Regions from separate parts of the Homo sapiens genome. Here region 2 is linked to region 1. Evidence: fine-mapped expression QTL. Tissue or cell type: Th2 cells. Region 1 holds a variant in brackets; the other region holds the start of a gene. All regions are shown on one strand. Distances are from middle to middle.

What was found. PIP is the estimated chance that this variant, and not a neighbour inherited with it, causes the effect.
Region 2: it holds the start of LRRC56, and the variant in region 1 is fine-mapped to the expression of LRRC56 in Th2 cells (Schmiedel 2018, PIP 0.95).

Annotation. Positions count from the first base shown.
Region 1 is chr11:427,026-429,861 of GRCh38, reverse strand. ANO9 (anoctamin 9) reads left to right here. Exons shown (of 23, transcript NM_001012302.3): 10 at 44-104; 11 at 210-292; 12 at 1,036-1,140; 13 at 1,223-1,387; 14 at 1,468-1,504; 15 at 1,663-1,774. Among named protein-coding and RNA genes, the nearest start is that of SIGIRR, 13 kb to the right of the region's middle. RefSeq lists an enhancer at 117-1,316. The variant G/A (reference allele first, on the strand shown) is at 1,194.
Region 2 is chr11:536,453-538,952 of GRCh38, reverse strand. It overlaps LRRC56 (leucine rich repeat containing 56), which reads right to left and starts at 1,426. Exons shown (of 14, transcript NM_198075.4): 1 at 1,348-1,426; 2 at 93-355.

The DNA.
Region 1 (2,836 bases):
CAGCTCACCCACCTCCTCTCCGGCCCACCTATCACCCCCCCAGCTCACCCACCTCTTTGACAATGATGGCACGGTGGTGTTCGCCATCTTCATGGCTCTCTGGGGTGAGTTGCTGCGGGACGCCTCTGCGGGGCCAGGGGAAGTGCCAGCCCAAGCTCCGAGGTCCACCTGGCGTAGTGCAGTGATGCCCCTCCTTGCCCCCGCCGCAGCCACGGTGTTCCTGGAGATCTGGAAGCGGCAGCGCGCCCGCGTGGTCCTGCACTGGGACCTGTACGTGTGGGACGAGGAACAGGTGAGGTGGAGCTGGCAGCGCAGCTGAGGCCGACCCGAGCAGGGGCTGTTGGCGCCCGATGCCCTGCACGGCCCACATATGCCTGCCGTGTCTGAGGTGTGTGTCCCGAGTCTGTCTCCCCACATGTGGGGCGTGTGTCCTGGTCTGTCCACCTGTGAGGCGTGTCCCTGTGTCTGTCTCCCCACGTGTGGGGTGAGTGTCCCGTGTCTGTCCACCCGTGAGGCGTGTCGCTGTGTCTGTCTCCCCACGTGTGGGGTGCGTGTCCCATGTCTGTCTCCCCATGTGTGGGGTGAGTGTCCCGTGTCTGTCCACCCGTGAGGTGTGTCCCTGTGTCTGTCTCCCCACGTGTGGGGTGAGTGTCCCGTGTCTGTCCACCCGTGAGGCGTGTCCCTGTGTCTGTCTCCCCACGTGTGGGGTGAGTGTCCCGTGTCTGTCCACCCATGAGGCATGTCCCTGTGTCTGTCTCCCCACGTGTGGGATGAGTGTCCCGTGTCTGTCCACCCGTGAGGCGTGTCCCTGTGTCTGTCTCCCCACGTGTGGTGTGAGTGTCCCGTGTCTGTCCACCCGTGAGGCGTGTCCCTGTGTCTGTCTCCCCACGTGTGGGGTGCGTGTCCCGTGTCTGTCTCCCCATGTGTGGGGTGAGTGTCCCGTGTCTGTCCACCCGTGAGGTGTGTCTCTGTGTCTGTCTCCCCACATGTGGGGTGAGTGTCCCTTGTCTGAGGCTTGCCCGGTGCTCTCCCCAGGAGGAAATGGCACTTCAGCTCATTAACTGCCCCGACTACAAGCTCCGGCCATACCAGCACTCCTACCTACGCAGCACCGTCATCCTCGTCCTGACCCTGCTCATGGTACGCAGGGGACACCGCGGTGGGGCTGGAGACCCGGGCTGCATGCCCTCCCC[G/A]GCCCCCGCCCACCACAGCTGTCCCGCAGATCTGCCTCATGATCGGCATGGCCCACGTCCTGGTGGTCTACCGCGTCCTGGCCTCCGCGCTCTTCAGCAGCTCGGCCGTGCCCTTCCTGGAGGAGCAGGTGACCACGGCCGTGGTGGTGACCGGGGCTCTGGTGCACTATGTGACCATCATCATCATGACCAAGGTGGGGCCGGGAGCAGGGCAGGCCCGAGCTGGGGGGTCCACCGGAGCCCCAGTGAGCCCATTCGGTGCCCTCCTCCGCAGATCAACAGGTGCGTGGCCCTGAAGCTTTGTGACTTCGGTGAGAGGACTACCCCAGACCCTCTTGGGGGACCCGGCGGGAGGACTCAGGGCTGGGGCCTTGGGGCTGTGGTCAGAGAGCAGGGGAGGGGACCCTTCCTGCTGCCCCAGGGCCTCTCCTATGAGCAGGGAGAGAGGTGAGGGCCGGTCCCATTCCAGAGATGCCCAGGACCTTCTCGGAGCGAGAGAGCAGGTTCACCATCCGCTTCTTCACACTGCAGTTCTTCACCCATTTCTCGTCTCTCATCTACATCGCCTTCATCCTGGGCAGGTAGGGCCGGCGCCAGGCTCCCTCCAACCCAACTCACGAGGGCTTGTTCCACTGCCTTTAAAGTGGCAATGTCCATTCTTTTAATTTTAAAAGTAATTTCTGCTGAGAGCAAGTGGAAATCCAATCTAGAGACATGTGAGCAAAGCCTGCAGTGAGCCCAGCTCCTGAATCCCGGGCCCCGAGGTAGCATCAAGACAGTCTGGTGGCCTCCCAGGCTTTTTCATGCATTTGCAGGCGCATAACAGCACTGGCAGAAATGGCTTTGTCCTGGGAATAACTGCACCTGCTCTTTATGCTGAAAATGCACTTGGTGTCTTCCTGGGTCTGCCTGCCCACACATCCTCGTATACATGTATATATGAGAGAGAGAGAGAGAGAGACAGAGACAGGGTCTTGCTGTCGCCAGGCTGGTGTCCAGTGGCACAATGTTGGCTCACTGCAGTCTTGACCTCCTGGGTCTCCTGAGTAGCTGGGATTACAGGCGTGCACCACCACACCCAGCTAATTTTAATATTTTTTGTAGAAATGGGGTCTCACCGTGTTACCCAGGCTGGTTTCGAATTCCTGGGCTCGAGCGATCCTCCTGCCTCAGTTTCCCAAAGTGTTAGGATTTCAGGCGTGAGCCACTGCACCTGGCCAAAAAAAGGTGCATATGGATTGATGGAGCCAGAAAGACTCATTTCACTAATTAGGAAGGCGAGGTGAGAGGGATGCTGGCTGCAGCTTTACTTTTTTTTTGAGATGGAGTCTCGCTCTGTCGCCCAGGCTGGAGTGCAGTAGCATGATCTTGGCTCGCTACAACCTCTGCTTCCTGGGTTCAAGCAATTCTCCTGCCTCAGCCTCCTGAGTGGCTGGGACCACAGGTGCGCACCACCACACCCAGCTAATTTTTGTATTTTTTGTAGAGAAAGGGTTTCACCATGTTGGCCAGGCTGGTCTCGAGCTCCTGACCTCAGGTGAGCCACCACGTCTGGCCCTGTAGATGCTGGTTCTTGACCCCCATCCGTCTTGGGAAAGGCGTGCACCATGGCTTGCTGTGGGCCACGTCTCTCCTGGTGGGAC
Region 2 (2,500 bases), 110 kb before region 1:
TGGACTGATCCCCTGACTGCACTCCCCACCCAGCCTTCCCAGATTTATCTTCCTGATGAGACGAGTTCCCTTCGGAGCCCTGTGTGTCTTACTACGTGTTCGGTTGAGGGCCTGCCTCGCCCCAGAGCTGTGGGCTGCACGTGGCCTGCACGTGGCCTGCGTGCTCCTCTGCTGTCCACAGTCGCAGGAGGGGATGCTCAAATATTTGTCGAAGGAATCCGTGAACAGGCAGATGCACATGTAGCCACTTAGAACGTTCTGGCCATGGCTTTTATCTGTTGACCACGTGTGGACACTGAAGATGCATCCTCTCCATCCCGTCTAGAGCTGCCCCTGTGCCAGGCGAGTTGGCCGGCTGTTGACAGAGGTGGTGGGTGGGAGTGTTGGAGCGGGGCAGTGGCTCAGGCTCTGGGTGCCTCACTGGCCTGGTCTGGAAGGTGACCATGCACCAAGGATCAAAGAAGTGAAGCCCAAAGCAGAATCTCATGGAGTTTCCAGCCCAAATCTCCCCCACTGCCTGCCTTTCTCCAGCCAGTGCAAGGCCCCAGGCCTCACAGCAGGACCCCAACACTGCATCCCCCCAAAGACTCTGGCCACCTCCATCCCAGGCCTGCCAGCCTCGAGCCTCATGGAGGGCGTGAGCTGGCGGGGTCACGGGCAGCCCCTGGACACCTATGGGTGACACTAAGGGCTGAGTCAGCTACCCTTGTCTCCTCTGTGCCCAAGAGCCCCAAGCATCAGACTGGTCTGAGCCCCAAGGCCTGGGGGTGCAAGGGGTTGGAGGCTGTGGGATCCAAAGACCCCATTGAACTCCCACCTCAGACACTGCACCTAGTGTTCTCACCCAGGCCTGAACCCATCCACACACTTCACGGCCCTGCTCCCACCCTGTGTCCCCTCTGCAAGCCCCCATGCTCCCCAAATTGGTAACTGGGGGGCCTGTCTCCACACCCCTGCTAGTGCCATTCCCTGGTGGGTAGCCATCACCTCTGGGTCCCCTGCTGCCCTCGCCCCTTCACCATGGGGGCTCGGAAGGCAGAGCCCGCTCCCCTCCTGAGCCCCACCCTGGAACCCTGAGCACCCTGGGTCATTGCCTCTGAGTCTCCCTCAGGGGCAGGGCTTGGGGCCCCTCCTGTCTCCTGACAGGGAGCCCTTTCAGTGCAGGGCCAGGGGGTGGTGGAGGCAAGGGTCCTCAGGGGACCAGATCTGACATGCGGGGCCATCACTGGGTCCCCGATGGCTGTGCTGCTTCGTCCCCGCGCCCACGCCTCGGCGCAGGTTCCCTCCTGGCACCGGTCATAGGGCGAGGCTTGCGGCTCCCACCCCAAGGGTGCGCTCGGCTCTCACCTGAGGGCTCAGCCTAGGTGTCCGGCCCTGGCAGCTCGGCCCTGGGCGCCCTCCACCTCCAGGCGCTGTCTCCTACTCCAGGCTGTTCTTCCGGCCGCCGCGGGGTTGCGGCCTGGGCGCCATAGCAACGGGAGCCAGGCCTCATTTGAATACGCAAATATTTATAAGTCGCCGGGGGCTCGGGTTCCGTGCGGCTGAGCCACGCCCCTTAGCAACGGTCGCTAGGGCGGGGCCACGTGGACTGGCACGTGCGTGGGCGCCCCTGCTGCGGGCGATCCCAGGGGAAGGTGACGCGCCACCAACTCGAGTTGGGTGGGCGCAGGCGCGTCAGGTGCCAGCTTCCTGCGGCTCCGTGCCTGGGCCGTCGCGATGCACGTGTCGCGTTTCCTCGCGATCCTGGCGCTTCCCACGCGGGGCGGGTAAAGGCGGTCTCTGCTGGAGGCTCGCGCCCACCTTTCCCAGGTGGAAGGGTCGCCCCTGGGGCCGAGGCCTGCCGTCCTGACCTTCGGTTGGAAGTGAGGCCGACGGCAAAAGGAAGCACCGGGGGAAGCGCCCCCGAGGACCAGGAAACACACACCGGACGCCGGAGCGCACCCGAGTGCCCGGCCCGCGGGACACGCTGCCGCCCGCCGTCCAGTCGCCGCTTCTCACTCGCGTTCATGCGTGTCCGCCCCGAGCCGAGCTCTGACTGCGACCGCGCGGTGGACGGACGGCAGGCGGGACCCCCGGGACCGCACGTGGGTGGAGCCCCGGGTCAGCAGCGACCGGCGCAGGAGGGCGAGGCGGGCGCTGGACTGGGCAGAGGCAGGGTTTGCCTGACTGTAAAACGCCTTTTTTGTTTTGAGACGAAGTAGCGCTCTGTTGCCCAGTGCAGTGGCGCGATTTCGGCTCACCGCAACATCCGCCTCCCGGGTTCCAGCGATTCTCCTGCCTCAGCCTCCCGAGTAGCTGGGACTACAGGCGCGCGCCACTGCAGCCGACTAATTTTTTGTGTTTTTAGTAGAGACAGGGTTTCATCATGTTGGCCAGGCTGGTCTTGAACTCCTGACCTCAAGTAATCCACCCGCTTAGGCCTCCCGAAGTGCTGGGATTATAGGCGTGAGCCACCGCGCCCGGCCCTTTTTGTTTTTTAATGAGGATGTATTTCTGATTC